Regions from separate parts of the Homo sapiens genome. Here all the other regions are linked to region 5. The links come from fine-mapping of genetic effects on gene expression. A gene starts in region 5. Each other region holds a variant in brackets. All regions are shown on one strand. Distances are from middle to middle. Region 1 overlaps STIM2 (stromal interaction molecule 2). Region 2 overlaps STIM2 (stromal interaction molecule 2). Region 3 overlaps TBC1D19 (TBC1 domain family member 19). Region 4 overlaps LOC105374542 (a long non-coding RNA gene). Region 5 holds the start of STIM2 (stromal interaction molecule 2).

Evidence for each region. PIP is the estimated chance that this variant, and not a neighbour inherited with it, causes the effect.
Region 1: its variant is the best candidate, but not a certain one, in a credible set for the expression of STIM2 in Th2 cells (Schmiedel 2018, PIP 0.58).
Region 2: its variant is the best candidate, but not a certain one, in a credible set for the expression of STIM2 in CD4 T cells (BLUEPRINT, PIP 0.81).
Region 3: its variant is the best candidate, but not a certain one, in a credible set for the expression of STIM2 in whole blood (TOPMed, PIP 0.78).
Region 4: its variant is the best candidate, but not a certain one, in a credible set for the expression of STIM2 in aorta (GTEx, PIP 0.81).

What each region holds. Positions count from the first base shown.
Region 1 is chr4:27,017,155-27,022,154 of GRCh38, reverse strand. It overlaps STIM2 (stromal interaction molecule 2), which reads right to left. Exons shown (of 12, transcript NM_020860.4): 11 at 4,171-4,444. Among named protein-coding and RNA genes, the nearest start is that of STIM2, 160 kb to the right of the region's middle. RefSeq lists enhancers at 3,837-4,336, 4,337-4,838. The variant T/AT (reference allele first, on the strand shown) is at 2,473.
Region 2 is chr4:26,891,138-26,896,137 of GRCh38, reverse strand. All of the region lies in intron 1 of STIM2 (stromal interaction molecule 2), which reads right to left. Among named protein-coding and RNA genes, the nearest start is that of STIM2, 33 kb to the right of the region's middle. The variant G/C (reference allele first, on the strand shown) is at 1,957.
Region 3 is chr4:26,647,120-26,653,511 of GRCh38, reverse strand. The region is part of intron 7 of TBC1D19 (TBC1 domain family member 19); the gene reads right to left. Among named protein-coding and RNA genes, the nearest start is that of TBC1D19, 66 kb to the right of the region's middle. The variant T/A (reference allele first, on the strand shown) is at 3,407.
Region 4 is chr4:26,288,152-26,294,543 of GRCh38, reverse strand. It overlaps LOC105374542 (a long non-coding RNA gene), which reads left to right. Exons shown (of 2, transcript XR_925508.3): 2 at 6,095-6,391. It also overlaps a transcript of RBPJ not described here. Among named protein-coding and RNA genes, the nearest start is that of RBPJ, 30 kb to the left of the region's middle. RefSeq lists a silencer at 5,630-5,679 and an enhancer at 5,850-5,899. The variant A/G (reference allele first, on the strand shown) is at 3,704.
Region 5 is chr4:26,858,822-26,863,821 of GRCh38, reverse strand. STIM2 (stromal interaction molecule 2) reads right to left here and starts at 2,981. Exons shown (of 12, transcript NM_020860.4): 1 at 2,453-2,981. The coding sequence starts at 2,603. It overlaps STIM2-AS1 (STIM2 antisense RNA 1), which reads left to right and starts at 3,223. Exons shown (of 2, transcript NR_134674.1): 1 at 3,223-3,312; 2 at 3,794-4,198. It also overlaps a transcript of TBC1D19 not described here. RefSeq lists silencers at 2,285-2,854, 2,865-3,234 and an enhancer at 3,325-3,424.

The DNA.
Region 1 (5,000 bases), 160 kb before region 5:
ACGCTATTTTAAAAGATGAATTTTAGTCACTGCCTCTCCCTTTGTCATTAACTTGATGAACTATAGCTTTGTTAGGAAGGAAGAAATATACATGAAAGGAATTACACTAAAATGTAAGTTCTACCAAATTTAAAAGGGGGGCAGGGAATCGAGGCACATCAGAGTATGGCAGTGGAGGGGAGGGGCAAACATATGATGCTATTTTTAAAAAAAACAGACATTCAGTAAATTCTCACAGCATTCTTACTTTTGAATGTTTTCCTCCTTTTCTCCACAGTGGAAAAATAAATTTTGTAACCCCAAAACCAACATATAGTAAATGCCATCACCCATTCCTTCAAATCTCTCTCAAATCCACCATTCCTTATTATGTCCCCTGCTCCCATCCTTCCTCTGCAACAGCCAGGAACTCAACTAAATGATTGCAACGGCTTCCTAATTGGTCTTCCTGCTTTCATTCTCATTCTTCCCTCCCAGCTACTTCTCTACACAGCCATTAAAGTGATTTTTAAAAACTCAAGCAAAACATATCATTCACTTACTTGAAACTTCCCAGTGCTTTCTCTCATACTCAGAGTAAGATCCAAAGTCCTTGTCAAAGCGTACCAGGCCGTGTACATGTGGTCCCTGGCTGTCTCCAACTGCACACTCCCTTGTGTTCCTGTAACATGCCAACCTCGAGACCCCTCAGGGCCCTGCATTTGCTGTTCCCTCTGCTTGGTGTTATCTACTCTCCATCTCCACGTGGCTTACTTCTCCAGGGTACGCAGGTTACTGCTGCCTGCCCTAACCACCTTGTCTGAAACAGCATTCTCTTTCCTTTTACCTGTCTTTGTTTGCAACCCCAAAACTTACCAAAACCTAAAATGATATTTTATATTAACTTGTTTATAGGCAGAATCCCAGAAAAAAAGAAATAAATAAGGACAAGGAGCCTTATTAACTTCTGTCTTCTCTGCACTAGAAGAGTGGCAAGTTTACGGTAGGTACTTCATAAAAATGTGTTGGATGAATGAATGGAAGGGTGGGTGAATGAATGAATGAACAGAGTGAGATATTAAAGAACAGGGATCACATCTTACTCACTTTTTTTTTTTGAGAGCTTTACTACTTAGTCTCATTCACTTTTGCACGCACCGAGCCCAAGGTGAATACTGTTCACTCCATGAAAGGAAATGATTGAGAAATGAAAGGGAGAGTCAAGGTAAAAAGTGGCAAAAGAAATACAGTGTGAGAAGGGAACAGAGCTGAAGGCAGAACAGAAAGGCAAGAGCACATATGATTATAACCCAGCAGCTGGAACTAGGCCAGGTCCTTGTCTCACTTGTCTTGGCAGCTCATGTTATAGGCAAATGCACCTCTCATAGCAAGGACTAAATTCATATTTACAAAATGAATAAACTAAATGATCTCTTACCTTAGATGGCCTATGATTAATATCATTTTCATGTTACTGATGTACACATTTACTGGAGGTCTGGCACTTAATTTTGATGAATATTCTATGTTAATACCACATTTTAGATACATATTCAGATTGCTGAATTTAGTCATTTCTATGTACTTTACTCACATATGTCTATGAAGATCGTCTTTACTGCACTACAAGCTCTCGAAAGGTACAAAATCCCCTAAATAACGACCTAATGGTTTCACATAATACACCTACGTGTGCTGCATAATTCTCAAATGCTTTTATAATTCAATAATGGGTAGTGCTAACAGAAAGCAAGAAGCAGTTCAGATATGAGGAAATGATCAGACTCAGAAATCAATCATTGATAGAGGCATTTCTGCAAAGCCTTTTTTGGAATGGCTGTCCATTAATTGAACAGAATATATCACTGTTCCCTGAAGCTGTTCAGCTTCCAAAGTCAGAAGCTGATTCAGTTATAATTTTATGAATATTTTCTCTTCTGTTATGTGGCTTTGCTGCATTGTGTGTGAAATTCTAAGCTAGGCTAAAAGTATTTTAAAAACTAGCCTCTAAACTCTAAACAATGTGTGAAAAGAATACTGATTTAAGTCAGGAGACTTGGGTTCCTAAGATGGTCCTACCATTAATCAGTTGTAAAAGCCTCAGTAAATCACTTGATCTCTTGAGGTCTCAATTTTCCTATCTGTTAAAGTAAGAAAATTTGATTAATCACTAATGTTACCTTCTAGTTCTAACATTTGAATTGCGTAATGACAATAATCCAAAGTGTTGCTTCTTCTGCATAACTAATCTGACTTGGATAATAAGACATAATACAAGTTCAAATTTTATTTTCTTGCAGAGTACATACTCTTTGGAATGTTGAACTATCTGTACCACTTATGCTATTTTTTTCTATTTCTTTTTTTCCCCAGAGTGACATGGAGTTGAATTCACATGTAAGAAAACTCAAAATGAGGTTTAAATGAGCATATATGTGCATAAGGCATAGAACATTCCAACAGAGCGAGACTCCGTCTCATAAAAAAAAAAAA[T/AT]CAGTAAATATTCAACATTATTATTTTGTAAGGATTCTGGTGGTTCAATAGAGGAGAGACTGAAAATGAAGAGGAAGAAAAGTTTTCCAAATTCAAATCATTCTCTTATTTATGAGAGCTAGCTATGAAACTTTGACATTGCTATTGAAATGAGAACTGAACGTTCCATCAATGCAGGAAGTTTTATTAGACAGTGCAGCTCTCGAGTTTTCCTTCTGATTTCCAGAAACCACACAAGACCAGTTCTGTCAGTAAAGGCATCTTGCTGGTGACTATGATCATACTGCAAAGACAGACGAAAAGCTAGTCATAAAGTGTTAACCAAGCAAAGTCGCATCAGATTCTCCAACTGCAATGAAGATATAAAGCCTGCATTATCTCCTTAGGAATATGCTGCACTGATCACTTGCAAATCATAAAATTTTCTTTTACTACTAGATAATTATGAATGAAAAATGATTATTGATGATAATGTCACCTAAAGAGTCACATGATAAAGAGTGTAGACCACTCCCTTTTGCTTCTCATAGAAGAGGGTAAAGCCTTTGGGGACACATAGCTACTCAGTGGCAATACCTGAAACTACCACTCAATACCATACTGCTTTTAAAGAGTAATGTGGTTTAAGAACAGAGCTCCTCAAATTAAGAGTTTCATGGAGCACTGATGTCATTAAGTTGGACTGAAATACGCTGCTGCTATGCCCATTTTGTTAAGTTACTAATTTACTTTTCTAAGTTCCTGACATTTTCTTAAACCTTTGGCATATGATACTGCTTATGTGTTAGCAAGTACCAGCACATAACAGAATAAATCATTAAGTGACAACAAATATTTTTAAGTCAGTCATATCCGATATTTCTTCGTGTTCAAGTATATTCAAGCTCATGCTTTTCCATTTTACATATAAAATTGTTCATGACAAGTTTATGCTCTGAGATCTGAGTCAACCGTGTCCAGTGACCTCTAAGCAGTTACATCTCAAAATATCTACCTACATGTCTGTGGTAGGCAGAATTCTAAGATGGCTCCCAAATTCCCAGCCCCTGGTGTACACACACCTTCTTCCAGTTTTCCAATCAAACATAAAAATAGATGCTGCTGTAAAGGGATTCTGAAGATAAAATTAAGGCCCCAAACTAGTTGATGTTAATATAGAGAGATTATTATTATCCAGGGGAGCCTTTTACATTTTAGTCTAGAGATCAGAGAGACGGAAGTTGGAGACTCAAAGCAAAGGAGGAATCTACAGCAGAGAAATTCTCTATTGCTGGCTTTGAAGATGGGAGATCCTGTGGCAAGGAACAGTGGACAGCCTCCAGGACCTGAGAGCAGCCGCCATGCAGCTGACAGAAAGCACAGACACGGGGACCTCCGTCCTGGAGCCACAGGAAATGAAGTTCGCCACAACCACATGAACTTTGAGAACTGCAAGCTCCAGATGAGAATGCAGCCTGGCCAACACCATGATTTTAGCCTTGTAAGGCCCTGAGCAAAAACCCCAGTCACACCAGGCTTGGAATTCTGATGTACAGAACTAAGAGCTAAAAAATGGGTGATGTCTGAGGCTGCAAAGTCTGTGGTACCTTGATATGTAGCAACAGAAAATGGAAACATGCACCACTCCTCCCGCCCCCTCCTCACACCTTACCCCCAACCCAGCCCCAACATGCCCTGTAGATTATTCACTGCCAATACCATTGCTTTTCAGCAGAGAAGTAAATGGCCTCTTCCTCCTCTTCATTTCGATAAAGCGCAGGGCAACTTGACACTGAGAGGATATCTGGATCAGGGGAAGGCAAGGAGTGTGGTGTGTGTTGCGGGTGGTGAGGGTGCCGAGGGTGTGACGGGTGGGGGGCGTGTGGAGCAAGCTGAGCTCGCTGAGGCTGAGGCGAGGACGGCACAATGCTGCGGCGTGAACGGCACAGGCTGCTGCTTCTGGCTAATGATCCAGGAGGTTTAGCCATGGTCCCTGAAAAACACCAAGAAAGAAACATGCTCATGAAGTCCAGGGTTCCCTTTACAGTCACCACAAATACATACACACAAGAGAACTGATGTCACTAATATGTCACTGTTTCATCTCCCTTTACTGAAGTTACTGTACAGTTATTACCATTCTCTACTACCTACACTAGGAAAGTTAAGAAATAGAAACAAAAAAAAAACAGGTTTAAAAAACAAACAGAAGTGAACATAAACATGAGGCTTTAACAGAAAATCTAAATGTACTAACCAAAAAGGCTTAAAAATTTACCTAAGACAACAAATCTTTAAATTTAAAAACCTGTATTGTATCACAAATTTTTTATGACTGTTAACATAAAGAAAGGACAACAGAATAAAGTAGGCTGCAATGGTATCTCTTGAAATATCACAAGTTCTTTGAACTCAATCAGTTTTAAATCAAGGAAATCACTTAACTACTGTATGCACAGTCTCACAGCTGGTTAGGCAGAGTTCAGAGCAAAACTTGTTTCTTGAACACCCACTACTGTGGAACTAAACAGAAGTCTTAGATCCAACTA
Region 2 (5,000 bases), 32 kb before region 5:
AGCAACAAGTGGTCAAATCAAGCAATTGAAGACCTCAGTACTACAACAAGGAACTCAATTACCTCAACAACCAGAATAAGCCTGGAAGAGGACTCCATGCTCCAGATGAGGACATGGCCCAACCAACACCTCGATTTCAGCCTTGTGAGAATCTGAGAATTGAGGTAAACCATGCCCAGACTCATCACCAACAGAAACTCTTAAATAACAAGCATATGATGTTTTGAGGTGCTGAGTGTATGGTAATTCATTATGCAGCAGTAGAAAACTAACACACTGAGTTTGATTATTACTCTTCAAACACCCTTACAAAGAGAATGACTTTGAGGTAGTAGATAAGCCAAAAATAGATCCACTTACTTTTCCAAACTAATTTAAAATTTGTCTGAAACTTAGGCCCTCCTGTTCTGGCTGAATGTTTCATGAGAACAAACTACACAAAGAAGTTCCATGGTTTGGGACTGCAACTCTAGTTTGCTCTCATAAATGACAGTGCAAGATGGAGACTTAAAACTGATGAAACTGGGTTATGGACAAATTCAAAAACATAAAAAAAAGTTTCTTCCATTTCTCATCGCAACTTAAGGTCAAAATCTTGCCTTTCTCTAGCCATACTAAAAAAAGTTAGGAAAAGGAGAAAAATATTTGCAAGTTCATGCTTCCTAACATGCAAAAAAACTCAAAACGTATGGATCCATGATGGTATTTGTTATTTTAAACATTGGGAACTGGCAAAACCATTTTGAAAATAAAAACGTTTATGTTTTGAATCAAAGAGTACCTAAGAATAAATACAGTACCTAGGAATAAATACAACAAGCTGCAAGACCTCTAGGGAAAAACTATAAAATTTTATGAGAGCCACTAAAACAGACTTAAATAGAAATAATTATCAAATACTTATTTATGTATTTATTAATTTATTTTGGAGACAGTCTCACTCTGTCGCCTAGGCTGGAGTGCAGTGGCGCAATCTCAGCTCACTGCAACCTCTGCCTCCCAAGTTCAAGCAATTCTCCTAACTCACCCTCCTGGATAGCTGAGATTTCAGGCGTGCGCCATCATGCCCAGCTAATTTTTGTATTTTTAGTAGAGACGAAGTTTCACCATGTTGGCCAGGCTGGTCTCAAATTCCTGGCCTCAGGTGATCCACCCACCTTGGCCTTCCAAAGTGCTGGCATTACAGATGTGAGCCACCGCACCCGGCCAGAAATAATTATCAAATTTTTAGACTGGATGACTGAATGTTATAAGTATGTCAACTGCCTCCAAATCAATTTAATAGAACCAGTGCAGTTCCAATAGGTTTTTTTCCATGCAGCTTCACAAGCTAATTGCAAAGTTTATATGAATATGCAAAGGGCAAAGAATAGCCCAGTCTTGAAAAAGAACAAATAAAACTTGCTATACCAAATATTAAGACATATAAGATGACAGTGACTTAAAAACACTGTGAGTATTGTCAAAGCAACAGAAAAATAGATCAGTGAAAAAATAAAGAGCCCAGAACAGACTCACACACATACAGACACTTGCTATACGACACAACTAGCACCACAGATTAGTGGGGAAAATTCAAACTTGTTAAAAAAAAAAAAATGGTGCTGCAATTGGCTGAACATCCACACGGAAGGAAAAAAATGGAAATCAGACCTGATTCTCAAAAAACACAAAATCAATTCTCAGTGAATAAAAACCTGAATTTGAAATACAAACTAAGTTAAACTAAAGACAATAAAAGACAGAATAGAAAAGGATTACTTCAGTAAGACACAAAAAGCTTTAACTATAAAGGGAAAATCCAGTTAATTTGGCAGTACTCTCATTAAGAACTTCTGTTTATTAATACACCATATATATATATACACACATAAGTATATAAAAAGACAAGGCAAAAATTCGGAAGAGATATTGCAATTGTGATCAAATATAACAGAAATATAAAGAATTAGGCCA[G/C]GTGCAGTGGCTCACGCCTGTAATCCCAGCACTTTGGGAGGCCGAGGCGGGTGGATCACGAAGTCAGGAGTTCCAGCCCAGTCTGGCCAAGATGGTGAAACCCCATTTTTACTGAAAATATAAAAATTAGCCTGGCGCAGTGGCGGGCACCTGTAATCCCAGCTACTTGGGAAGCTGAGGAAGGAGAATCGCTTGAACCCGGGAGGCAGAGGTTGCAGTGAGCTGAGATCACGCCACTGCACTCTAGCCTGGGCGACACAACAAGACTCTGTCTCAAAAAATAATTATCTGTAAGAAAAAAACACTCCAACTCAATAAAAAAATGAACAGAAGACTTAAATAGACAATCTCCAAAAGAGGAAATCTAGATAACTAGTAATATGAAATGATGCTCAACTTCAAAAAAAAAATGAATGTTTAATACCAATGTTCGTGACACTGGGAAAGTAAACTGATACATCCGCTTTGGCAAATAATTTGGCATTACTAAGGAAAGCTGATATCACCTAACCCAGCAACCTCCTTGGTTACACACCCTTGAAAAACTCACTCAAAAAATGTGCAATAAAGAAATAGTCACAGAAGTACTGTTCATAAAAGGTCAAAACTAGAAACAAAAGCTTCATAAGAAAAGTGGATAAACTACAGTGTATTCAAAATTGGAATACAGCAATAAAAATGAATGAATGCAGCTACACAGAACAAAATGGACAAATCTCACACTTTTTTGAGCAAAAGCAAGACAGGCAAAAAGCACATACAATGATTTTATTAATATACAGTCCAAAAAAGACAAAACTAAATAATATTATCTAGGTAAACATACACAAATTGTAAAAAGTAAAAAGAAAGGAAAGTATCATGACAGAAATAATGACAACTCTGGCAGTAGGAGAGGTTGTGATTAAGAAGAGGGACTATGGGGAGGGGGAACTTCTAGGGGTGTTGATGAAGTTCTATTTCATGACCTGAAGGTGGTTTAATGGTTCCCTTTATTATTCATTAGACTACATAAACATTTAATGTTCTTCTGTGTATTTTATATGTCACTCCAAATATGTTTCACTCTAAAACTGCATACATTAGTGCCACTATCAAGGACCTGAAGGATGCAGGGGTAGTGATTCTAACACATCCCCATTCAACTTACCTGTTTACCTCATGCAGAAAACAGATGAATTTTGGAGAATGACAGTGCATTATTATAAACTTAACTAGGTAACTCCAATTCTAATTGCTGTACCAGATGTGGTTTCACTGCTTGAGCAAACTAACACATACCCTGGTAACTGGTTTGCAAATATGGATCTGAAAAATGCTTTTTTTCCTCAACGTGTGTTAATAAAAACTGCCAGAAGTAGTTTGTTTTTAGCTAGCAAGATTGAAAGGCAATACACTTTCACTCTTACCTCAGGGTTATATCAACTTTCCAGCCCTACGTCATAATTTAATCCAGAGACCTTGATCAACTTTCCCTTCCACAAGACACCACAACAACCCATTATATTCATGACCTTATGCTAATTGGACCTAGTGAGCAAGAAACTGCAATTACTCTAAGCTTATTGGTAAAACATATGCATGTCAGAAGGTAAGAAATGAGTAAGACAAAAATCCAGGGGTGTCATGGACTGAATATATGCGTCCCCCCCCAAAAAAATTCATATGTTAAAATCCTAACTCCCAAAGTAATAATAGGAATTGAGACCTTTGGGAGGTCTGTCAGTCATGAGGGTGGCGCCGTCTTGAATAGGATTAGTGCTCTTATGAAACAGGAGCTCACTCGCTCTCTCTGCTGTCCACCACATGAAGATACAAAAAGATGGCCGCAAAACAGAAGAGTGCCCTCACTAGACACTGGATCTGCCAGCACCTTGATCTTGGATTTCTCAGCCTCCAGAGCTGTGAGAAATAAATGTTTGATGTTTAAGCCACGCAGTCTTTGGTAATTTCTTAAAGCCTGATGTATTCGTTCATTTTCACGCTGCTGATAAAGATATACCCAAGACTGGGCAATTTACAAAAGAAAGAGGTTTACTGGACTTACAGTTCTGCATGGCTGGGGAGGCCTCACAATTATGGCAGAAGGTAAGGAGGAGCAAGTCACATCTTACACAGATAGCGGCAGACAGAGCTTGTGCAGAGAAACTCCCATTTTAAAACCATCAGATCTCACAAGACCCATTCACTATCATGAGAACAGCATGGGAAAGACCCACACCCAAGATTCAATCATCTCCCACTGGGTCCCTCGCACAACACATAGGAATTATGGGAGCCGCAAGATGAGACTTGGGTAGAGACACAGAGCCAACCCACATCACCTGAACAGACAAGGAGCCTTCCACCTCGGTGAAATTTCTAAGGGTCTAGTGATGTGGTACATGTTGACATATCCCTTCTAATGTGAAGTAAAAGTTGTTTTAGCTAGTCCCTCCTAAAATCAAGACAGACAGAATGTCTAGTAGGCCTCTTTGTATTTGGAAGGCAACATATTCCTTATTTGGGTGTGCTACTCTAGCCCATTTACTGAGTGTATCAGTCAGGGTTTTCTAGAAAAACAGAACCAATAACCAAAAGGGGGTGTGTGTGTGTGTGTGTGTGTGTGTGTGTGTGTGTGTGTATGTATGTATACACATATCTTTATATGTATATATACATGCACAAACACACATATATGTGTATAAATATAGAGATTTATTTTAAGGAACTAGTTCACAAGATTATACAGGCTGACAAGTCTGAAATCTGTAGTGCAGGCAAGAGTTTATGTTTTACTTGAGTCCAAATTCTGTCACAAGAGCAAGCTAGCAAGCTAGAAACTCAAGCAAAATGTCTAGGTTACAGTCTTAAGGCAGAAATACTTCTTTTTCAGGAAACCTCAGTTTCTGCTCCTAAGGCCTTCAACTGATTGGATAAGGCCCACTCATATCATCAAGGGCAATCTCTCAGCATAACTACTTACAGATACTAATCATATCTACAAATTACTTTCATGCAACATCTAGACTAGTGTTTGACCAAACAACTGGACACCACAGACC
Region 3 (6,392 bases), 210 kb after region 5:
ACTTAGACTCCCACACAATAATAATGGGAGACTTTAACACCCCACTGTCAACATTAGACAGATCAACCAGACAGAACGTTAACAAGGATATCCAGGAATTGAACTGAACTCAGCTCTGCACCAAGCGGACCTAATAGACATCTACAGAACTCTCCACCCCAAGTCAACAGAATATACATTCTTCTCAGCACCACATCGCACTTATTTCAAAATTGATCACATAGTTGGAAGCAAAGCACTCCTCAGCAAATGTAAAAGAACAGAAATCATAACAAACTGTCTCTCAGACCACAGTGCAATCAAACTAGAAGTCAGGATTAAGAAACTCACTCAGAACAGCTCAACTACATGGAAACTGAACAACCTGCTCCTGAGTGACTACTGGGTACATAACGAAATGAAGGCAGAAATAAAGATGTTCTTTGAAACCAATGAGAAAAAAGGCACAACATACCAGAATCTCTGGAACACATTCAAAGCAGTATGTAGAAGGAAATTTATGGAACTAAATGCCCACAAGAGAAAGCAGGAAAGATCTAAAATTGACACCCTAACATCACAATTAAAAGAACTAGAGAAGCAAGAGCAAACACATTCAAAAGCTAGCCGAAGGCAAGAAATAACTAAGATCAGAGAAGAACTGAAGGAGATAGAGACACAAAAAACCCTTCAAAAAACCAATGAATCCAGGAGTTGGTTTTTTGAAAAGATCAACAAAATTGATAGACCGCTAGCAAGACTAATAAAGAAGAAAAGAGAGAAGAATCAAATAGACACAATAAAAAATGATAAAGGGGATATGACCACTGATCCCACAGAAATACAAACTACCATCAGAGAATACTATAAACACCTCTACACAAATAAACTAGAAAAATCTAGAAGAAATGGATAAATTCCTTGACACATACACCCTCCCAAGACTAAACCAGGAAGAAGTTGAATCTCTGAATAGACCAATAACAGGCTCTGGCCGGGTGCGGTGGCTCACGCCTGTAATCCCAGCTCTCAGGGAGGCAAGAGGTGGGAGGATAGCTTGAGCCCAGGAGTTCGAGACCTGCCTGGGAAATACAGTGAGACCCCGTTCTCCACAAAAAGGAAAAACAAAAAAATAACAGGCTCTGAAATTGAGGCAATAATTAATAGCTTACCAACCAAAAAAAAGTCCAGGACCAGATGGATTCACAGCCAAATTCTACCAGAGGTACAAAGAGGAGCTGGTACCATTCTTTCTGAAACTATTCCAATCATTAGAAAAAGAGGGAATCCTCCCTAACTCATTTTATAAGGCCAGTATCATCCTGATACCAAAGCCTGGCAGAGACACAACAAAAAAAGAGAATTTTGGACCAATATCCCTGATCAACATCAATGCAAACATCCTCAAGAAAATACTGGCAAACCGAATCCAGCAGCACATCAAAAAGCTTATCCACCATGATCTAGTGGGCTTCATCCCTGGGATGCAAGGCTGGTTAAACACATGCAAATCAATAAATGTAATCCAGCATATAAACAGAACCAATGACAAAAACCACAGGATTATCCCAATAGATGCAGAAAAGGCGTTGGACAAAATTCAACAACACTTCATGCTAAAAACTCTCAATAAATTACGTATTGATGGGACATATCTCAAAATAATAAGAGCTATCTATGACAAACCCACAGCCAATATCATACTGAATGGACAAAAACTGGAAGAATTCCCTTTGAAAACTGGCACAAGAGAGGGATGCCCTCTCTCACCACTCCTATTCAACATAGCGTTGAAAGTTCTGGCCATGGCAATCAGGCAGGAGAAGGAAATAAAGGGTATTCAATTAGGAAAAGAGGAAGTCAAATTGTCCCTGTTTGCAGATGTCATGATTGTATATCTAGAAAACCCCATCGTCTCAGCCCAAAATCTCCTTAAGCTGATAAGCAACTTCAGCAAAGGCTCAGGATACAAAATCAATGTGCAAAAATCACAAACATTCTTATACACCAATAACAGATAAACAGCCAAATCATGAGTGAACTCCCATTTACAATTGCTACAAAGAGAATAAAATACCTAGGAATCCAACTTACAAGGGATGTGAAGGACCTCTTGAAGGAGAACTACAAACCACTGCTCAATGAAATAAAAGAGGATACAAACAAATGGGAGAACATTCCATGCTCATGGGTAGGAAGAATCAATATCGTGAAAATGGCCATACTGCCCAAAGTAATTTATAGATTCAATGCCATCCCCATCAAGCTACCACTGACTTTCTTCACAGAATTGGAAAATACTACCATAAAGTTTGCATGGAACCAAAAAAGAGCCCGCAGTGCCAAGACAATACTAAGCCAAAAGAACAAAGCCGAAGGCATCACGCTACCTGACTTCAAACTATACTACAAGGCTACAGTAACCAAAACAGCATGGTACTCGTACCAAAACAGAGATATAGACCAATGGAACAGAACAGAGCCCTCAGAAATAATGCCACATATCTACAACTATCTGATCTTTGACAAACCTGAGAAAAACCAGCAATGGGGAAAGGATTCCCTATTTAATAAATGGTGCTGGGAAAACTGGCTAACCATATGTAGAGAGCTGAAACTGGATCCCTTCCTTACACCTTATATAAAAATTAATTCAAGATGGATTATAAAGACTTAAATGTGAGACCTAAAACCATAAAAACCCTAGAAGAAAACCTAGGTAATACCATTCAGGACATAGGCATGGGCAAGGACTTCATGTCTAAAACGCCAAAAGCAATGGCAACAAAAGCCAAAATTGACAAATGGGATCTAATTAAACAAAAGAGCTTCTGCACAGCAAAAGAAACTACCATCAGAGTGAACAGGCAACCTACAGAATGGGAGAAAATTTTTGCAATCTACTCATCTGACAAAGGGCTAATATCCAGAATCTACAATGAACTCAAATAAATTTACAAGAAAAAAACAATCAACCCCATCAACAAGTGGGCGAAGGATATGAACAGACACTTCTCCAAAGAAGACATTTATACAGCCAAAAGACACGTGAAAAAATGCTCATCATCACTGGCCATCAGAGAAATGCAAATCAAAACCACAATGAGATACCATCTCACACCAGTTAGAATGAGGATCATTAAAAAGTCAGGAAACAACAGGTGCTGGAGAGGATGAGGAGAAATAGGAACACTTTTACACTGTTGGTGGGACTGTAAACTAGTTCAACCATTGTGGAAGTCAGTGTGGCGATTCCTCAGGGATCTAGAACTAGAAATACCATTTGACCCAGCCATTCCATTACGGGGTATATACTCAAAGGATTATAAATCATGCTGCTATAAAGACACATGCACACGTATGTTTTCTGCGGCACTATTCACAATAGCAAAGACTTGGAACCAACCCAAATGTCCAACAATGGTAG[T/A]CTGGATTAAGAAAATGTGGCACATATACACCATGGAATACTATGCAGCCATAAAAAATGATGAGTTCATGTCCTTTGTAGGGATGCGGATGAAGCTGGAAACCATCATTCTCAGCAAACTATCGCAAGGACAAAAAACCAAACACCGCATGTTCTCACTCATAGGTGGGAATTGAACAATGAGAATGCATGGACACAGGAAGGAGAATATCACACACTGGGGCCTGTTGTGGGGTTGGGGGAGAGGGGAGGGATAGCATTAGGAGATATACCTAATGTTAAATGACGAGTTAATGGGTGCAGCACACCTACATGGCACATGTATACATATGTAACAAACCTGCACGTTGTGCACATGTACCCTAAAACTTAAAGTATAATAAAAAAAAAAAAAGTTAGAACGTTGAGATATTATGCCACAACATGGATGAAACTTGAAAACAGTAGGCTAAGTAAAAGAAACCAGTCATTGGTTATACAATAAACATATGTGGTATAATTTCATTTCTATGAAATGTCTAGCACAGGCAAATTCATAGAGACAAAAAGTAGATTAGTGGTTGCCTAGGGCTGCATGGGGAAGAGAATGAAGGGTGACTACAAATGGGCATAAGGTTTCTTTTTTGGGTAATAAAAATGTTCTAAAAATGTGGTGATGTTGCACAATTCTGTAAATATACTGAAAACCACTTGAGTTGTATATTTTAAATGGCTGAAATTTATGCTGTAAAAATTCTAGCTCAATAAAGCTGTCAAAAATGCTGGGGGTATTGGGAAAAAAAAGAATCTAGTGGAGGAGATTATGATGACAGAAACGCTATCATATTTGAGGAAGACATTAATGAACTGATAGCTAACAGCTGATAAAATATATGCTATAATACCAAAAAAGTTTCCTAAAATTGCAAACACTATATTGACACTATAAATATAAATAGTATTTGTTTAAAAAAAATTAGCAAAGAATCTACAATTTTAGCCTAATTACCTAACAGCACAATTTTAGCCTAATTACATAAATAAGGAATCATACTACAAGGGAAACTGACAAACATAAAAGACAGGAAAAGGAGAAAAAACTGTAAATACATGAGTAACAGAAAAATAAAAATATTAGAAATGTAGAAACTGTAATTAAGGAAATAATTATTTAAAATATTCGTAATTTTAAAAAGATCTCAGCATGAGTAATAAAAGATCAATTAAGGAACTGTCCTCAAAGAAACAATGTTACGAGCTATTAAGGAGAAAACATAATAAGAATAAGAATAAGAATATAAAAATTACATAAAGTTTCAGCTTTTAAGTGCTAGAAAAGGGAAGAGTTTGGGAGAAACTTTTAGTAAGCTAAGAGAAATAAAGCCATCATCATAAAGGCAGTTTTTTACTAACCTGTCTCTTCAACATTCAAAGTAAACTGTTTACAATTCCAAAAGTTCTGAAATAATTTCTAACCAAGTTTTACTTTAGCAAATGTAAAGAGATAAAATGTGAAACCTTCATTCATTGATTCATTTATTCATTCATTCAGTAAATATTTATTGAGCAGATTGTGCTAAGCACTGTTCTACTTGGGGACAGTGCAGTCAAAGACAGGATTAACTTACAGCTGACCTGTGGTAGTGTTATGCTAATCTCCAGAAATACCTGGAAGTCTGGTAGTGACCCTTGGCCAAGATGCAGTGACATGTACTAACTAGTCAGTTGTAATATGCTATTTTTATGACCAAAACTAACCTGGAGGCATTCCACAACTGTTTATTTACATTGTTTATTGAAAATGTAGATTGGTGGTTTGCATCTGATATAACCAGTTGGGTAGAAACGACCCCTCAAAAAACTTGTGTCTTGGCTCTCTAGGCCAAGATATCTCACATGTATCTTGATGGTTTATAACTGAAAATCTAAACACATCCTGTGTAACTGAGAAAGGGCCCTGAGAGCTCTGTCAGAAGTGTGGATCTCTTTGTGTTTGCAGGTTCATTCTTTCTCTTGCTGAAAGAAAGCCACATGTGGGTGTACCCTGAGAAGTCTTGTGAGTGTTGTCAATTATTTGACCCTGTGTGACTGCTGAAGCAGGGAACAAAACAGAATTGAAAAGCTCTTGCCCCTGTGGAGCTTCCTTTGTAATGGAAAAAGGCAAGCAATAAGCAAAATAAATCAATAGTATGTTACATACGTCATGATAGATGCTGTGGAGGAAAACAAAGCTGGAAAGGGTATAAGGAGTTCCAAGCAGAAGAGCCAGTGAAACCTTTACTAAGAAGGTGATATTTAAGCAAAGACACAAGTAGTGAGGGAACATGCAGGTAGACATTTAGGGAAAAATCATTGCCAGCAGATAAAACAAAGAGCAAAGACACTCAGCTGGGAGGAAGCCAGGGGTAAGCAAGGAGGCTAAAGTAGCTGGAGTAAGACCAATCAGAAGGACAGTAACCAGAGATGAACTCAGACAGGTAATGGGATATCAAATCAAATGGGCTTTTATTTAATAAGTAGAATAAGATGGGAAGCCACTGGATAGCAGAAGAGTGGCTTATTCTGAATTGCATTTAAAGGCCTTCCTCCGGAAGCTGTGCTAAGAACAGATTCTAGGTGGGAAAAGGTAGAAGTAGGAAGACCAGTTGGGAAGCTTGGATATAGCAGTGGTGGTGACAAAAACTGGCTGTATTCTGGATATATTTCAAAGATAAATATAATAGGATTACATGTGAAGTCCAAGAGAAAGAGTGAAATCAAACGTATGAATTAAAATAATGAATTCCAAGTGTCTACTGAAGGGTTCCACTTGAATATTTGATATGTCTCTGTAACTTAACTCAGCTTATCACCTTCACTAACAGCCCTGTTCCTCCTCCTGTATCCTCTATCTCATGTCAAGTAACTTCTAGCCAATTACACAACCTAGATACTTGAAGGTGATCATTATCTTTTCTTTTTCTCATAGACCCCGTATCTGATCAGTTCCCAAATCATCCTTAAAATC
Region 4 (6,392 bases), 570 kb after region 5:
ACCTCTTTCTAGGTACCTGTGTTACCTTCCCTGCTTCTCCCGACCTCTACTCCACTCCCGTCCCCTACAATCCACTCTCTACACGACATCTGGAGTACTTTTAAAAATGTAAATCAGATCATCTTACTCCTAAATTTAAAACTTCCCAGCCGGGCGTGATGGCTCATGCCTGTATTCCCAGCACTTTGGGAGGCCAAGGCGGGTGGATCACAAGGTCAGGAGTTCAAGACTAGCCTGGCCAAGATGGTGAAACCCTGTCTCTACTAAAAACTACAAAAATTAGCCAGGCATGGTGGCAGGTGCCTGTAATCCCAGCTACTCGGGAGGCTGAGGCAGGAGAATTGCTTGAACCCGGGTGACAGAGGTTGCAGTGAGCTGAGATGGTGCCACTGCACTCCAATCTGGGCGACAGAGTGAGACTCCATCTCAAAAAAACAAAAACAAAAACAAAAACAAAAACAAAAACAAAAACAAAAACAACTTCCTGGCCGGGTGCCATGGCTCATGCCAGTAATCCCAGCACTTTGGGAGGTTGAGGTGAGCAGATTACCTGAGGTCAGGAGCTCGAGACCAGCTTGGCCAGCATGGTGAAACCCTGTCTCTACCAAAAACACAAAAATTAGCTGAGTGTGGTGGCACATGCCTGTAATCCCAGCTACTGGGGAAGCTGAGGCAGGAGAATTGCTTGAACCTGGGAGGCAGAGGTTGCAGTGAGCAGAGATCGTGCCACTGCACTCCAGCCTTGGTGACAAATCGAGACTCCATCTCAAAAAAAGAAGAAAAAAACACTTCTCATATACATGTCTATTATTTTTGTCATTCCTGAATTGTTTTGCCATCATAATTAGCATTGGAAAATCTTTTAATATAAAAACTCTGTGCTTTTTATTTTTTTATTTCTTATTTTGGAGACATGGTCTCACTCTGTCACCCAGGCTGGAGTACTATGGCACAATCACAGCTCAGTGCAGCCCCGAACTCCTGGGTTCAAGCAAACTTTCTGCCTCAGCCTCCCAAGTAGCTGAGACTTTAGGCATGTGCCACCAGACTTGGCTAATTAAAAAAAATTTTTTGTGAGGACAGGATCTCACTATGTTGCCCAGGCTGCCCTTGAACTCCTGGGCTCAAGCAATCCTCCTGCCTCAGCCTCCCAAAGTGCTGGGATTACAGGTGTGAGCCATCATGCCAAGCTGACTCTGTGCTGTCTTGCAATAAACAAAATAAAAAAAAAAAGGAAGCTGAGGGCACCACCTTCCAGATGCAAGAGATGGGGTGAGTGGTAACACCTAGTAAAGGGGGGAAACCTAGCAAAGCCCTGAGGCCTGCAGCTGAGGAAGAAAAGGGAATGCTAAGAGCCTACTTGGGCCTGAGGAGGAACCTGGGTTATGCAGTAGAAGGACCCCAACTGGCCTAAGAGCCCCTTCAGAGTGTGGCTTCTGCTTACCTTTCCAGCCTACTCTCCCATTCTCACTCCCCTCCCTGTACCTTGTGCTCCAGCTATATCCAAGTGTCCATAGTATACAGATCCAAATATGCTATCTACCCTAATGAACCAGCAGTCCCATTTCTGGGTATAACATCAGAAGGAAACCATATATCAAAGTGATATCTGCATGCCCATGTTCATTGGAGCATTATTCACAATAGCCAAGACATGGAAACAACCTAAGTGTCCACTGATGGATGAATGGATTAAAAAATTGTGATACACATATATATATATAAACACACCATATATATATATATGTATATACCTCACACATACACACACACCACAGTTTTTTAATACATACACAATAGAATGTTATTCTGTTAGGATTTTGGCCAGGCTCAGTGGCTCGCACCTGTAATCCCGGCAATTTGGGAGGCCAAGGCAGGTGGCTCACTTGAGGTCAGGAGTTTGAGACCAGCCTGGCCAACATGGTGAAACCTCGTCTCTACTAAAAATAACAAAAGTTAGCTGAGCCCGATGGTGGGCGGCTGTAATCCCAGCTACTCGGGAGGCTGAGACAGGAGAATCGCTTGAACCCGGGAGGCAGAGGTTGCAGTGAGCCGAGATTGTGCCACTGCATACCAGCCTGGGCAACAGAGCTAGACTCCATCTCATAAAAATATATATATTATTCAGTCATAAAAAAAAAGTGAGGAAATTTTGCCATTTGCAACAACATGGATGCAACTTGAGGCCATTATGCTAAATGAAATAAGTCACACAGAGAAAGGCAAATACTGTGTGATGTCACTTTTATGTAAAATCTATGAAGTTGAACTCATAGAAGCAGAGAATAGAATAGAGGTTGCCAGGGGCTGAGGAGTAGGGAAAATGGAAAGATGTTGGTCAAAATGTACAAACTTTCAGTTATAAGATGAGTAAGTTCTGGAGACTAAATATAAAGCATGGTGGCAATAATTGCCAATACTGTATTGCACACTTGAAATCTGCTAAGACATTAGATCTTAAATATTTTCACCACACATTAAAAAAAGTAAAAGTGTGACGTGAGGGATGTGTTAACTAACTTGATTGTGGTAATCATTTCACAATATGTACATATATCAAATCGTCACATTGTACACGTTAAACTTGTATGGTTTTATTTGTCAAGTATACCTCAATAAAACTGGAAAAAATAAAAATATATGTAAAACCTTAAAAAACAAACTGAAGGGCTGGACGCAGTGACTCACACCTATAATCCCAGACCTTTGGGAGGCCGAGGCAGGTGGATCAACGGAGGTCAGGAGTTCAAGACCAGCCTGGCCAACATGGTGAAACCCTGTCTCTATTAAAATACAAAAATTAACCAGGCATGGCAGCGCATGCCTGTAATCCCAGTTACTCAGGAGGCTGAGGCAGGAGAATCACTTGAACCCAGGAGGCGGAGGTTGCAGTGAGCAGGGACTGTGCCACTGCACTCTGGCCTGGGCGACAGAGCGAGACTCCATCTCAAAAAAAAAAAAAAGTCATTCATACCTGCTTGTCTTGTCACTCATTTCCTTTGCTTAGAAGGACCTTCCCCACCTTTTCTTATTAGTGAGTATTTATTCTACAACTCCCCAGAATAGATTTCCCACATGACAATTTGATGTCTTGATTTTCTGCCCTTGCTCTGAAGCTTGTACAATTGTTAAGACTGTTCTTGGACTCTAAATGACAACTTTGTGATAACATCCTTCAGTACTTTCCCAAATTTTGAAGTTTTCTCTATGCCATGAAAATTAATATTTGTATTTCTGTTGGATGCAAAAAGTTATACTGAACAATATCCTGTTGTGAATAGACCTCAATGATGCAGATGTTAACCCATAACCCAGAAGAGAATCTTAATATACTAGTCATTCCAACAAGTGGCTTCTCCCCCTACTCGCCTCTTTCTCTGGACTCTGGATTGTTCCACAAAGATTAACACTCATTTTCTCTGCTTTTTTTCCATGCACATTAATTTTGTCTTTCTGCAACACTTCTGAAGCAGGTATTATAGAAATATGGGTAATAAACAGAGAGCAAAGCCTTCTAAGTGAATACCTATTTGCTCACAGCCAGTAAACAGCATTCAAGGGGAATGCTTTCTATTTTTTAAAATGAAGGATTATTTACTTTAGCATATCTGCTTTCTTAGAGGAAGACCAGCTGGTTTAAGAAATAAATAAAGGCTATTAATCTTTATGTATTTCATTTACGATTCTCTTCTCGAAGGAGGAG[A/G]CCCATTAATAGAAACCTTTATAAGTACTGTAATATTAAATAAAAGTGCACTAAGTTATCTACTTTTAGAGGAATATTTAGGGTGTAATTTTCAGCCAACTGGAGAGAACCTAACAAAACTCGAGTGCTTAAAAGAAGGCATGTTATCGCTGAAGTTAAACTTGATTTCTTTTATGGCAGAACTGGACAGCTGCTCACACCTGCCTTAACTTTTCTTTTTTCTTCAGCCTAAAGTTATCTATTCCAGGATTCTATGTCATATGGTATAAAGCTTTGGTTTCAATCAGTCACTAACATAGAAGCTTGGATATATTTGGAATTCCTTTTGGGGGAAAAAATTGGCCAAAGCTTTTGATAGCTTTGCTTCTCACACCCAGGCCAAACTGGGCTGGCTCTCTACTGGGACAAGAATGCATATTGGCATCTCATCCTTAAAGCCACAGAGTCACAGCATATTGGTCCAAAAAGGGTTATTACAGCTCATGCGGTCTAACTTTTTTTACTTTTTTTTTTTTTTTTTTTTAGACAGGGTCTCGTTCTGTGGTGCAATCATAGCTCACTGCAGCCTCAAACTCCTGAGCTCAAGTGAACCTCCTGTCACAGTCTTCCAAGTAGCTAGGACTACAGGCATGTACCACCATGCCCAGCTAAGTTTTTTAAGTCACATGTAGAGATGGGAGGTGGGGTCTCGCTGTTTTGCCTAGGCTGGTTTCGAACTCCTGGCCTCAAGCAACCCTCCCACCATGTCCTCCCAAAGTCCTGGGATTTCAGACATGAGTCACCATGCCCAGCCTAACTTATTTATTTTATATTTTTCTTTAACTTTATATTGGCATTCCTTGCTCTCTTTTAGCAAAGTCCTTAATTAATTGACAATATAGAATATTTATATTACAGGTAGGTACCTGTTACAAGATGCCAAGACAAATTAACAAGATTTAGCAGGTCATTCAAGCACTCTCACAACTCTGATACTTGAGAGACAGTCCACCAGACAGATCAACCTTCAATTCCTGTATATTCTCCAAGTTCTATGCCTTAATTTGGTAAAGACATTAGAGAGAAAGGTACCTGGGCCACCTTTCCTCAGCTTCTTCCTCAAATATATTAACCAACTTACAGGTGAGGTGTGTCCTCTGTTTACATTCAGGGTTAATATGAGTACATCTTTTGCAAGCGTGTGATTGAAGATACTGACCACAATGTTAAGCGGTATTAACTCTACACAACTCCACGTGATAAAGTCCTTCTTGAATTTAGCTTCAGGCAATGATAGCATGCATGCTCACTCTTGTCAGAAAGTGAAATCTCTGCAGCCTATCACGCTTCTCTTTTCACCTCTGCTGCCAGAAAGATCTGAACCAAATTTATTGCCAAGTGTTGTAATATGATCATTTCTGGTGCCTAGAATTATTTACTCCTTTTTCTTTTTCTTTTTTTTTTTTTTTTTTTTTTTGAGACCAAGTCTCACTCTGTCGCTGAGGCTGGAGTGCAGTGGTTTGACCTGCATACCACTCTCAGGTTCAAGTGGTTCTCCCACCTCAGCCTCCCAAGTAGCTGGGATCACAGGCACCTGCCACTGTGCCCAGCTAATTTTTGTATTTTTAGTAGAGATGGGGTTTCACTATGTTGGCCAGGCTGGTCTTGAACTCCTGACCTCTAGTGATCTGTCCACCTCGGCCTCCCAAAGTGCTGGGATTACAGGCATGAGCCACCAGGCCCAGCCCTACTCCTCTTTCTTTCTTAAACATTTTATTTGTAAACTGCTTCAAGTAATTTTGGAAGTATGTAAGTTAAACATAAAAAAATTTAATAAAATAGGTAAAAACAATTGGTAGGAAGTAAGGAATAGTCAATCTTCCTAATGAAACTTTTCTGTGCAAAGGCCTTCATGCCAAGTTTCTCATTTGAAGGATGGTGAAAAGGCCTTATGCTTTGTGCTGGGCTTAATCCCCAGCTATACAACTTACTTGTTAAATAACTGTACAAAAGTGACCTCGCTTCCATTTCCTCATTTTTAAGTGGGGATATTAATGCTGTTGTTCCACTGGGGGGTTGTGACAACCCAATGAGAAAACATGGGGAAATACTTTCTAAACAGTGAGTCACTCTAGAAATGTTGGTTGTTATAACTTCCCTGTCTTGCAGGGCTGAGCCACTCTAGTTTAAAGAATACGTGTTTGTGAGGGCTTTTAAAATAAACTCACAAATAAATTTGCAAGTTCTTTGATACTCCTTTCAAGAAGTGGAGCCTAATTCTTCTCTCCTAGGGTGTGGTCTGTAGTCAGTAACTGAGTTTTAGCGAATTCAATGTGGCAGCAGTGACAATGTGCAACCCGTGAGAATAAGTCATTACATGCATTGTGGCTTCCTCCTTGCTCTTGCTCTTAGATCACTCATTGCAGAAGAAGCCAACTGCCATGCCAGAGGGGCACTCAAACAGCTCTGCAAGGAAGTCCCTGTGATAAGCAACTGAAGACTCTGCCATCGGCCATGAGAGCGCCACCTTGGAAACAGATTCTTCAGCCTTAGTCAAATTTTCAGAAGACTGTATGTCCAGCCAACTTCTTGACTACAATCCCTTTATAGATCCCAAGCTAGAACCTCCCAGCTAAGCCACTCCTGGATTCCTGACCCTGAGAAACTCTGTGAGAGAATAAATGTTTATTCTTGCCTTAAGCTCCTAAAT
Region 5 (5,000 bases):
ATCACAACTTTAATCAGGAGACAAAGAGACCAATTCTTCTCTCAGAATGCTTTCAAAAATTTTCAATTTTCAAAATTCACGTGACGTTTAGTTCTCTTATTACTGATGCTCTACTCCATCTCTATCCATTAACGCTGCCTACAATATGATACCACACCACAGTATTTTGTAAATTCAGTCTACGGTTTTACTTCCTGAAGTGTACACTAATGCTAATAAATTAGGTTCTAGGCTTTGCATAACATTTACAAATAGAACCATAAAAGAAAGCACTATTCATACACTCTTAAGAATGGGAAAGAGCCCTATAGAGGCCATATAGTTCAAAGAAATTTTCAATATTTTCTAACTTCATCATAGATTTTCAGTTTACCTTTACCAAGATATGGGTGCTATTGACTGTATTTACATAAACTTATTAAAATAACAATTTAATTTGTATATTGTGTAGTTTTATGATTTAAACTTTAAGTGGAAACGTTTAACTTGTTAAAAATCAATATTCTGACAAAAGGAAAGTAAAAGAACGTTAGAAATAATTCCAGGGTATTCTTCTAGCAAACTTATTTTAAAGCCCTATGGCACAAACTCATTTTGTGTGATACATCGGATTTTTTTCCAATAAGAATCACCTTTTTCCCCCATGCCTTAAATAAGTATAGAGAAATTTAAGTCTTAAAAGGGATTGTAAATGGCTTATTAAAATTCCATCTGACCAATTTTCTTGATGTGATCTACACAGTATAAAATATACTTATTAGCAGTCAATAAATACTAAATTTTCTGAATTGCTTGCCTTTTTACCAATTACTTTTTCACAGAGCATTAGCCAATTATGTATTAACCACATTTTTCTGCTCGAGAAACCTAGAACCACTTATACCTTCTAGAAGCCTAAATATTCCTGCTCCTTCCCTTCCTGCATGAGGCATTAAATCTTCAAATTATAGTCTTATTTATCAACTTTCCTAATAATCACTATTCTTCACTATACTGTTACTTGCCACATTTTTATTTGGAGAATAAATACTATTCAAGCATAAAGCTGTCTGACCTATCTTCTCACTCAAACTGTACTATGCTCCTAATACTGATTATTCTATAATCACTTTATCCCAGTTACCCAATTGGTAGGTTTGATGTATCAAGTTCCATTTAATAGGGCTTGATATGCTTCAGGGTAAAGTTAAACATGCTGACCATTATGTTCTATACTCTACATCCTCCAAAGCTTTTAAAGTTTACCAACATCCTTCTTCTCTCTAGAATAGTAAATATCCTATCATAGAAATCAGAGAAACTGCTTGGCTTTAAAGAATACAGTTCCTGAGCACTTGTCAGAGAAGCTGTTAGTAACTTCCAGACGCCCGCAGGACTATCATTTTGGTTAAATTAATCACGGGTCATCTTCTGCCACTTTAAACTTTTTAGTCTTACAATTATTGTAGGAAATCTACAGATCTACTTTAAAAATAAGTGAAATACTAAAAAAAAAAAAAAAAACCATTATTTTAGCTCCATTACTTTTCCCAAAGAAATCATTTCAGGGTCCTTATATAATAACTTTTACTTAAACCACAACTGATCAGTTGTACATAACACCGGAAGGCTTTAAAAAGGATACAATTCTGCACTTAACCTTACAAAACACGTTTCCAAGTTTTCAATTATGAGATCGTTCTATATATTAAAAAAAAGGTGCTAGTGCAGTCTATCAGAACTGTGCTGCCAGCTGCAAGCCCCGAGTATGCTGCACTTTGCAAATTTTAGGTATAATTTCTGGTTACCTGCTGAGGTTTCTACACCCTTTGTCACCCAGTGATGCTCCCACCACCAAACACTTTCCATCACCACTTAAAACGGCCTCCTTCCACCCCGCAAAAAATGCACTGTAAACTTAGGCATTTCTGCATACTAACACGGAACCACTAATATCACTAGGTATTATGGCTCTCAAAGAATCCCCTTTAGCAGGCTCCCCTGGGACGCTGTGCTCAAGCGGAGCTTTGAACCGGTGAGACTCGCTGCCAGCTGCCTTTGCAAAAGCAGCACCAGAGGTAGACTCAATACCGCAATGCTGCTGCTGACTTTTTCTAGCAGCCTCAAAAAAAAAAAAAAAAAAAAAATCAGCCCAGTCCCCTGCAGACCCTGCTGGCACTTCTGCAGCACGAAAGAGAAACCACCGCATTGCTCAGCTTGGAAGATCGGAGAGCCCGACTGAAGGGAGGGGAATCAGTGCCGTCGAGAGGCTCGGCGAGGGCGGGGTGTCGGGGTGAAAAGGAAAGACGTCCGGAGTGCAGGGGACCGCGACGAAGCAGCAGGCAGGGCTCCGCATCGCGCCCTGGCCGGAGCCGCGGAATAGCGGACGTCCGGCGGAGATGCTGACCTCTGCACGGGTTGGGGGTCCCATCGCTGCCGGCCGAGCCCCGCCCGCCGCCCCCCGGCCCCTCACCTGTCATGAGCGCCGGGCTATCGCCGGCCGCCGCGGCGGGAGAGGAGGCGGCAGTTGCGGCAGAGCCAGTCGCCCGCCGCCCGCGGAGGTGCCGGGGCACAAGCTCGCATCCGTCCGCCGCTCCGGCTACCAGCAGCCCGAGCACCAGCAACGCAGCCCAGCGCCGCCGCCGCAGCAGCCAGCCCCACGCTGGGCCAGGAGTCGAGGCGGGATGAAGGCGCCGAGGAGAAGCCGGGTGAAAGCGCAGCGGCGCCCCGGCCGCCTGCAGCTCGCCGGCTCCGCGAGGCGCCACCACCGCCGCCGGCGACTCCTCCGGCCGCCCCCGCCGCCTCAGACACGGGCTCCCGCCGGGCGCCAGCCTGGTCCCATCGGCACCGGCGGCCTCCGGAGCTCTGATCCCGGCTGCGTTCATTGGTTCCGGTTATTTAAAAAAAAAAAAAAAAAAGGTGGGGGGTAGAAAGGTACGGCGTCTTCAGGCGGTGCACGACACCCGCGCTGCTGCTGCGGCGAGACCGGGATCCGCTGCTCTGGCGCCGCCAAACACCAACCCCAGCTCCCGCGCCGCCGCCGCCGCGGCGCATCCCCCCGCCCCCTCCGGCCCGCGCTGGTCGTAGTACCACGCTCCGCCGGGACGCCTCCCTCCCCTCGCACATTCGCTCGCATACCAATCCCCCGCCTCCCTCAGGCTCTCCACGGCGCAGGCGCGGCGCTGCTGTACTGCGCGTGCGCGGCATCCCAGCCCCGCCCCGGAGGCGTTCCTAGACGGACGGTAGTACCGTGGGGCGGCTGATAACGCTTTAGCGAGCCGCGAAGATAGGAGGCGGGGAAGAAGGGGGACGTGTACCTCTCCCTCATTCACGGTACCACCGCGAGGGGGAGTGGGGGGCTACAAGGGGACGGAGAGAAGAGTCCAGACGTCCCACATCCTGAGGGCGAGTTTCAGCCTCGTAGAGGGCAGCGAAAGTAATTGCATGGATCAGGAAAATCTTGCAATCGGAAAACAGCAGCGTCCCCGTAATTTCAATATAGGTGGGGCTTACAAGTGGCTGGCTGTTTAGACGCGGTTAGCATAGCTTAGCGTTTTATTTACTTGCCAAACATTTCACAAAGCGCGTGCTATGTGTGAGTGTACCAGGCATTGCTCTAACCGTTTTACACATTTACATGCTATAACTCCAAAATTATCGTTACCCCCTTTTACGAATGAAGAGACTAAGACCTAGAAATGTGAAGTAAGTTGTCCCCAATATCCCACAGCTAATTCATGGGAAATGAGCGAGATTTAGCAGCCACTGAAAAGGCCTATTTAAGAGAATTTACTTTAGCCTCTGACTCTCCTAGGTACATTTACCTGAACTCATCACCTTCCCACCCCCATCCCATCGACTCTGTGCTGTATCCTGAACCGGCTGACAGAACAATGATGTAGACTTGACTTGTTTTCGCCAACCTGGAATGAAGCAAAGCTCTTGTGCACCCAAGATCTGCTCTCTGTTGTAAATCCTGTTCAGACCTGGTCTAATTGGTTTGAATAAATAAAGAACCGGAATCTTTCTCATCCAAACTAGTTGCCAGCATATTTTTAAGGCCACCTCCCTTCAAATTTAAAAGGAAGTGTTGAATGTACTGTCACTATAAATTAAAAGCCCTGGAAATTCACACGCAAGGAGGCATTCTTTCTCCCAGGGGCACAAAATTGTTTAAAATTTGCAGATAGGGTTATTAAACACGAAGATCCTTTTGCTATTGGGTTTTGTTGGTTTCATTCTGCTTATTGGTTTGTTTGCTTGCTTTCTCAAGCCAAGAAGATACTCAAATTACATTCTCCTAAAGTATTTCTTAGGTAGCCTGGCCAAGATAACCACAAATATCGTTTATTGTGGAAGGGCAGATGCACACTTTAGAAAAGAATCAAGGATGTCTTTGAGGCTAAGTCAATCTATCAACAGTTATTTCTCAGCAGACTTCTTGTGGGCATAGTGTTCAGGTGGCAATTCTTTATAGGGCAACCGGGAGATTATATTTCCCCTGCTGAAAGGCACAGCGATGAAGTCACACCAGAGTGCTGAGTGCCCACCAGAGAAGATAATTCTGCTAGGGGACCAGAACAATATAAATAACAAGCTTGTTCCTGCTCTCCAGGAGGCATTTCATTTATTAAATGTTTACTGAGTACCTAGTATGTGCCAGGCAGAGTACTGAGTGGTGAGGGTTAGGCAAGAGAGACACTTGAAAAAGGCAATTAAGTCAGCAGTCAGGGCTATGAGATAAACAGCACAGTCCCATGACTAAGGCATCTTACAATCTTTTTAAGGAGATAAAATGTACACCCATTAAACAATTAGAGGCTAATACAAAGTAGTAATCAGTTGCTAAATGGTGTAGTGCAAACTGTTACAGTAGTAACAGTATAAAACCACGAACAAATTAACAAATCACAGGGGCCAGGATTCTTTAAACAAAGATGATTTAGTATTTTTTTTTCTTCTTTTAAAGATAGGGAGGGTATTGACATTGAGAGTGTATTGGACTGGAGTTTTAAGTGTTT